2 linked regions of the Homo sapiens genome follow. The protein of the gene in region 2 purifies or fractionates together with the protein of the main gene of each other region. This does not show direct contact. Each region holds a gene or a part of one and is shown on either strand. Other genes may lie near its edges.

Region 1 (3,500 bases), about 31 Mb from region 2:
TAAGAGTAGAGAGAAAGATAAGAGTATTACCCACTCAAGAACAGGTTCCCAGGAGTGGGTAAACAAAACACCCATGGGCCCTCTCTGTAAGTGATCTAGGAGGTTACTTTCCAGGATGTAAGAGTTGACAGATCAATAGGATTGAAGATCTGGTGGCATTATTATTGCCATCTTTGGAGAAACTGTCTTTTAAAATTTCAATAGTTTGTATTAATAGGCTATTTTTCCTAACTTCCAAGAGTGTCAATGAATGGAAAGGTATGCACACAATCAAAATGTGTCCCTGAGAGCTATGTTATTAGACCACAGAGTAATACAATATTCAGATGAACCCAAATAATAGAGGGAAAAGAATTACTTCATCAATTCTAAGTAGAGCCTTGTCTCTCTCTATGTCTTCTGTTTCCATATTTTAAAAAACAATTTCTTCTAAACCCAATTTATTATATTTTGTTCTTACAAAGAGAGATTTCATTTCAAATATGTCATCTCCTCAGACTTTGCAATTAATTGCTGTTAAGATTGCTAATGACTGAAAATATCAAGAGTAATACCAGACAGGGAAAGCTCTGCTGTAAACAACAGACTCATAATAATCATTAAAATAGCCTGATGGAATTCCATACCTTTGCTACACGTCTAGCATTCATATAATCTCTACTCCGATCTTCAATCATTTTTTTAGCTAAATGAATATTGATACCCTAGAAAAAAACAAAAATATTTTAAAATTAAGTATAGTTTCTTAAAAATTAGTACAATACAGTTAATTTATTCATTTACTAAATAACTTTAAATTTTTATTTTAAAAGATTTCTTGTTTAATAAAGGTTCATACAGCTCATGAAAAGCAGGGAAAAAAGGTTCAATCACATTATACATTTCCAAGATCAAGGAGGATGTGCTTATGTCTTATGAGCTGGCAGTAAGTTTCCATTTATCAGGAACTTTTAAAGATAGAATCATTTGAAAAGGCTCAATAATTTCATATAAGATTCTACTGAAAAAAAAATGACATGGCTCATGCCTGTAATCTTAGCACTTTGGGAGGCCGAGTTGGGTGGATCACTTGAGGTCAGGAGTTCATGACCAGCCTGGCCAACATGGTGAAACCCCGTTTCTACTAAAAATACAAAAAAATTAGCTGGGTGTGGTGGTGTGCGCCTGTAATCCCAGCTACTTGGGAGCTTGAGGCAGGAGAATTGCTTGAAATGGCGAGGCAGAGGTTGCAGTGAGCTGAGATCATGCTATTGCACTCCAGCCTGGGCGACAGAGCGAGACTCTGTCTCAAAGAAAAAAAAAATATGTACAGATTCATCTGGGTGAATAGCCATGGCTTGACTTTGATAGCCCTTTTCTTTTTCTTTTTTATAAACAGAGTCTTCCTCTGTCACCCAGGCTACAGTGCAGTGGTGCCATCCTAACTCACTGGAACCTTGAACTCCTGGGCTCAAGTAATCCTCTTGCCTCAGACATAGGACTACAGGTGTGCCCTGCCAGATCTGGCTAATTAAAAAAATTTTTTTTGTTGAGACATAGTCTTGCTATGTTGCCTGGGCTGGCCTCAAACTCCTGGCCTCAGGCAATCCTCCCACTTCAGCCTCCCAAAGTGCTGGGATTACAGGCATTAGCCATCACACCTGGCTAATAGCCCTTTTCTAACTAGTTCTGTTGTATAACACTTTTTAAAAAGACAAACAGAAGTAGCAAGGAAAGATAAACATTACCACTCAGTGAGTACTCCAAGGATTCTAAGACCCTTTCAGGGAGTCCATGAGATCAAAATAGTTGTCATTATAACACTAAGACATTATTTGCCTCTCTCATAAAATACAGGAGTTTTACAGAGGCTACGTGACATTTAGTATTATAACACACTAAATGGAAGCAGATATGAAAATCCAGCTGTTTTCTATTACACTAGATATGAAAGAGATTTGTGAAAATATAAAACAATGCCACTCTTCTCACTACACACTACATTTTTTGTTTTGGAAAATACAGTTTTTGGCCAGGCATGGTGGCTCGTGCCTGTAATCCCAACATTTTGGGAGGCCGAGGCGGGCTAATTGCTTGAGCTCAGGAGTTCAAGGCCAGCCTGAGCAACATGGAGAAACCCCATCTCTACAAAAAATTAGCTTGAGAGTGGTGGGGCATGCCTGTAGTCTTAGCTACCTGGGAGGCTGAGGTGGGAGAATCACCTGAGCCCAGGAAGTTGAGACTGCAATGAGCTGTGATTGTGCCACTGCATTCCAGCCTCGGTGACAGAGTAAGACCCTGTCTCAAAAAAATAAAAACAAAAAATTCTTTGTGATCTTCAATAACTGTTAAAATCCAAAAACCATAAAGTTTGAAAACCACAGCTGATGCCTGTGAGGGAACAATTTCACTACCCTATATAGTTCTTCCAAATCACAATATACATACGAAAAACTTTCTTTTTTTCTCTTTAGAGACGGGCTCTCACCATCTTGCCCAGGCTGGTCTCAAACTACTGGGCTCAGGCAATCCTTCCATCTCGGCCTCCCAAAGTGCTGGGATTACAAGTGTAAGCCACCATGCCCAGCCAAGGAACTTCCTTTTAATGCTAGAGCTTATTTGGCATGTGTATTTATGTATTCAGATTGATTAGCTCAGTTATTAAAAGTAGATACCAATAACACAAAGATCTTGGATTGTAGCCACACACTTCACAAATTCAAACCAATCATCACATCACTGTAATCAGGTGAAAAAGGTGCACAGCAACCAAAAAATAATTCCCAAAAGGTACTATTGGAAACATAATTCCCAAAAGGTACTGTTTTATAGGTCAATGACAATGTGTATGTGTGTGTATGAATGTGTGGATATGGCTTAGCAAAGAATAAAAATAGTTTTATAAGAACTATTGTTCTTCAGAGTATCCTCTAAAAAATAACACTATATGGAGACTCTCAAACCTTGCAAAAACATTATAGTGCTTTCATTACAATCAATAAAAAAAGTGTAACACTGATACAGAAAGGCTATAATCTACAAATCCACAATGCATAGAAATTAAAATGGCTTGGTTTATAATAAACAACTACTCTGACCTAATTTACCTCTTCATACTTGTTATAGTCTCTCCAGAGCTGTTCAATGTTGATCATCGGATTAACACAACCTCGTTGATAAACTCTTCGGACAGCTGTTATTCTTTGATTTTCTGCATAAGATCCTACAGCTTCCCTGAGATTGGATAAGAAATGCCATCAATTATATTATAACCAAATCTCATTCAACCCAGCAATCTCACTACTGGATATCTACCCAAAGAACAACTCTATGGAAAATAGTATGGAGATTTCTCAAAGAACTAAAAATTATATTTTAGCTAAATCAACTGTAGATGTAAAAAAAAACTATACAAATACTTACACGCCTTTTAGGAAATTGATGTAATCCACCCAAATCTAAGAAATAAAATGAAATGTTAATATCTTTCTTGGTATTCTTACATTTAAGTGCATACATTA
Region 2 (3,962 bases):
TTACAGGTGTGAGCACTTATTCATTATTCATTATTACATTCATTATATTATTATAATGGCCCGGCCTGTATTCATTATATTTATCATAAAGTAATATTAATAGTACATAAAAATATATAAAAGTACTTAAAAATCCATCCTCGTGTTTTTTGTTTTGTTTTCTTTGAGACAGAGTCTCGTTCTGTCACCCAGGCTGGAGTGCAATGGCACGATCTCGGCTCACCGCAACCTCCGCCTTCCGGGTTCAAGTGATTCTCCTGCCTCAGCCTCCCGAGTAGCTGTAATTAACAGGCATGCACCACCACGCCTGCATAATTTTTGTATTTTTAGTAGAGACGGGGTTTCGCCATGTTGGCCAGGCAGGCCTCGAACTCCTGACCTCGTGATCCACCCAACTCGGCCTACCAAAGTGCTGGGATTACAGGCGTGAGCCACCGCGCCCGGCCGGTTTTTGTTTAAAAAAGAAAAGAAAAAAAAAAAAAAACACACAGACACACACAAAAACATCACCCCAATCCTTCCACCCTTGAACGCCACTTGAAGCCTAAGTTTCCTGCCTCCAAATTCCACTATTTCCACCCTCGACTCTCCTCCCCAGCTGTCCTAGATTCTGCTCCAGCTGAGCCTTGGCCCCGGGGCTGTTAGAAGGCAGAGGCTCTGGGGAGAAGTCCCCAAACCGGATTTACCCGTTCGTCGCACCTGTCCCTAGGAGGGCAGGCTGGGGTGTGGAGGCGGTGCCCTGCTGACCCGCGGGGAGAGAAGCCCGGGTCTCCCAGGCTGCAAAACGCTCGGCACTGCGGAAGCCGCGCCAGGCTCTCCCAGCTCGATACGCAGCGGCCGGCGCGCCTGCTCCGCCGCGGGGCCGAGCGGCAGAGGGGCCCGGGGCTGCGTGGAAGGCCCGGGGGCTTCAGCCCGTGCCGGGGAAGCCGACGCTCAGCCAACCAGAAAGTTAGAGGCGGCCGAGGTCTCGCGGAGGGGAGGCGCCTGGCGGCCACGGGAGAAGTCGAAGGGCTCAGGCGGGGCTCCATCCGCGACACTGGGAGCCCGGGCGGGCGCGCACGTGTGTATACGAGTGCGTGGGCCCATCCGGCGGCCCGGACTACAAGTTCCAGGGTGCCCAGCGGCGCTCCCGGGTTTTCTGGCCGCGCCTCCCGCTGGCTCCGAGCAGGTCGCCGCTGGCTGGCAGTCGCCACCCGGTCCCAGAGTAAATAAGGGAGAGACACTCCCGAGCGCCGTAAATAGAGTCCAAGTGGGCGGAGAGCCGTCCCGCGCCGCCCGCTCATGTCTCTACAGAGCCGACTGTCCGGCCGCCTGGCACAGCTGCGCGCGGCGGGGCAGCTGCTCGTCCCCCCGCGCCCCCGGCCCGGACACTTGGCGGGTGCCACGAGGACCCGCAGCAGCACGTGCGGTCCCCCGGCGTTCCTGGGCGTGTTCGGCCGCCGTGCGCGGACCTCGGCGGGAGTTGGGGCGTGGGGGGCGGCGGCGGTGGGGCGGACAGCCGGGGTGCGCACTTGGGCCCCCCTGGCCATGGCGGCGAAGGTGGACCTGAGCACCTCCACCGACTGGAAGGAGGCGAAATGTAAGTGTAAGCACGAGGGGGCGCGAGGGAGAGGGCGGCCTCACGTGGAGCTTCCCGGCTGGGCGGCCCCCAACGAGCGAGCAGCCCCTTCCACCCGAGAGACCTGGGGAAGTTGAGGCCCCATCTGCCCTGGAACGGACCCCTCCTCCCCATTGACAGCCCCCCCCGCCCCCGCGCGTGTTCCCAGCCCCACAGAACAATTCACTCCAGACCAGGTCCAAGTGTCCACGCAGGGGGCAGCGTGAGGAAGGCGGCCTTCCTTACCCCATTGGAATGGGTCACAGGGCACCCCAGAGATTGTGCAGGACCTACCAACTTCCTTCCCTGTGCAGGAGGGAAACTGAGGCCGAGTGCCACAGCTGGCTTCCCCAAGGTCACTCGGAGCTGGTGGCAAAGTGGAGGTTATGATCCCGGACTCTCCAAACTTTGCACAGTGTGGTTCTTAAGTGTTCGGGAATGGGGCTGAGGGAACAGCTCCGGGGCTGGCGTCCCACCTGGTGGGGCACGTAACCTCACAGAGTGACCTTCCTGGGCTGGCCTGTCCTGCCTCCACCCCACCCCAAGCCCGCACTCTGATGCCTTCCTGGGCACGTGGTCTGGCGCCCTTTTCCCCTTCTCGCTGGCCTCTGGCCACTTGTGAGCAGTTTGCTCATGCCAGGAACAGAGGTTAGAGGAGCAGGGCAGAGGTGGGGTCTTGTCCCTGTGACAACTGATGACACCCTTCAAGAATCACACCACTTCCTCTTGCTCCTGGAGGGGGCATGAGTCTGGGGCCTGGGGAGAGAGAGAACCCAAGCTGCCGCTACTGAGCCCCAAATAGCCCTGCCGGGCACCCAGCTGCCCCTGCCTTTCAGGGCCTGCCTCCTGGGATCCTGTGACTCTTCCCGGCTGGATCCCCTTTCAAAAGTGCAGGGAAGTGGCTAATTGGCTGGGCCTCCGTGGTGGAGTAGGTGTGGCCTCTGGGCTGGGCAGGCAGGATGGGGGGGTCCTGCGGTGTTAGGGGTGAAGAGAAGATGGCTTTCTCGGGACCAGAGGTGGAAATCAAAATGATTTACTCCTGACATGAATTGTGTGGCCTGCGCCAGGATCTAAAAGTGACGGCAGAAAGCACCGACTTTAGCCCGTGAGCAGATGGAGAACTTGTCAGGCACTTGGCCCTTGCCCCAGAACAGCAGGAGGAGTTTGGGGCTGGCAGAGACCCCTGGAGGGGGAGCCACTGTCCCCACAGAGACCCCTGCTCCCCTGAGCACTCTCTCAGAGGACAACAACCCAGGAGGGTGGGAAAGAGCTACGGAGACAAGGTGCCCAGGCACCTGCTCGAGGGCTGCCGCTGTTTTTAGGATCCAGCCCCCACAGCCCCACTCCTTGGTGCCAGGAAAGCAACCGGACCTTGTGATGGGGCTGGGGTTCCTGGGCTGCTGTGTTGTCACTGGGGTCTCCCTTTTGCTTCGAGGTGGGATTTCCAATCATGCAGCAAACTTTTATTGAACGCCCCCTAGGTGGTCAGGCTGGGGACTCAGACATGTGTCAGATAGGCAAGGGCCCTGCCCTCATGGAGCTTGTAATCTGGTGTGAGGATTACAAAGCATCTATTGTAAAGAATGTGTTCTAGCAGCTGAGACAAGGCCCGGTAACCTCAGTGCTGTGAAGACACCATAGCAGATGGGGCCACCTGAGCTGGGGAGATCAGAGGAGGCGTCTCAGGGGTGGTGGCCTGAGAAGAGGCATCCAGCTGGGTAATGATATTCCAGACCCGTTATTGAGTGACAGTGGGCCAGGCCCAAGGAGTGGGGCTGGTCTGGGGCTCTGCCTGCTACTGAAGCCACAGTTAGAGGGACGCTTTCGGGGGTGAGATGTGGAGATCCCCCAATAGTTATCTATTTCTGTGTAACAAAACACCCCGAACCTTAGTGGCGTAAAACAGCAAACCTGCATTCTCTCCATCTCTTGAGGGTCAGGAAACTGAGAGAAGCTTAGCTGGGTGGTTCTAGCTCAGGGTCTCCCTCCCTCTGAGGCCGGGTGGGACTTGGTTAGGGCTGGAGGATGGGCTTCCTAAACAGCTCCCTCCCATAAAATGGCATTTGGTGAGAGGCCTCGGTTGGTCACTTTGGGGCCTCTCCATGGGGCTGCTTGAGTGCCTCACATGGGATAGATGTCCTAAGCTTTTCCCCCAGAGCATATGCTCCACGAGAGGGATCGTGAGGAGACCCCGATGGAGCTGCAGTGCCTTCTTTGTGACCTCGTCTTCGAAGTCTCTCCTGCTTTATTCTAGGGGTCAGAATCGAGTCAGGGAGTCTGGCCATACTCCAGGAGAGGGAAATTAGGCTCTACCTCTTGAAAGAAAGAATCTCAAAGAATTTGAAGGTGTGTTTTTATTTTCTTA

What was found. Proteins that work in one complex are often made in the same cells at the same time.
Region 1: the proteins of MACROD1 (region 2) and CSTF3 purify together in Homo sapiens (affinity purification with mass spectrometry, with the first as the bait; one study listed by BioGRID). This does not show direct contact.

The regions. Positions count from the first base shown.
Region 1 is NC_000011.10:33,102,481-33,105,980, forward strand, and holds part of CSTF3 (cleavage stimulation factor subunit 3), read right to left. Parts: intron 3,438-3,500; coding exon 3,403-3,437; intron 3,214-3,402; coding exon 3,087-3,213; intron 705-3,086; coding exon 627-704; intron 1-626. UniProt on the Homo sapiens protein: One of the multiple factors required for polyadenylation and 3'-end cleavage of mammalian pre-mRNAs.
Region 2 is NC_000011.10:64,163,314-64,167,275, reverse strand, and holds the start of MACROD1 (ADP-ribose glycohydrolase MACROD1), read left to right. Parts: upstream 1-1,162; 5' UTR 1,163-1,281; coding exon 1,282-1,579; intron 1,580-3,962. UniProt on the Homo sapiens protein: Removes ADP-ribose from aspartate and glutamate residues in proteins bearing a single ADP-ribose moiety. Inactive towards proteins bearing poly-ADP-ribose.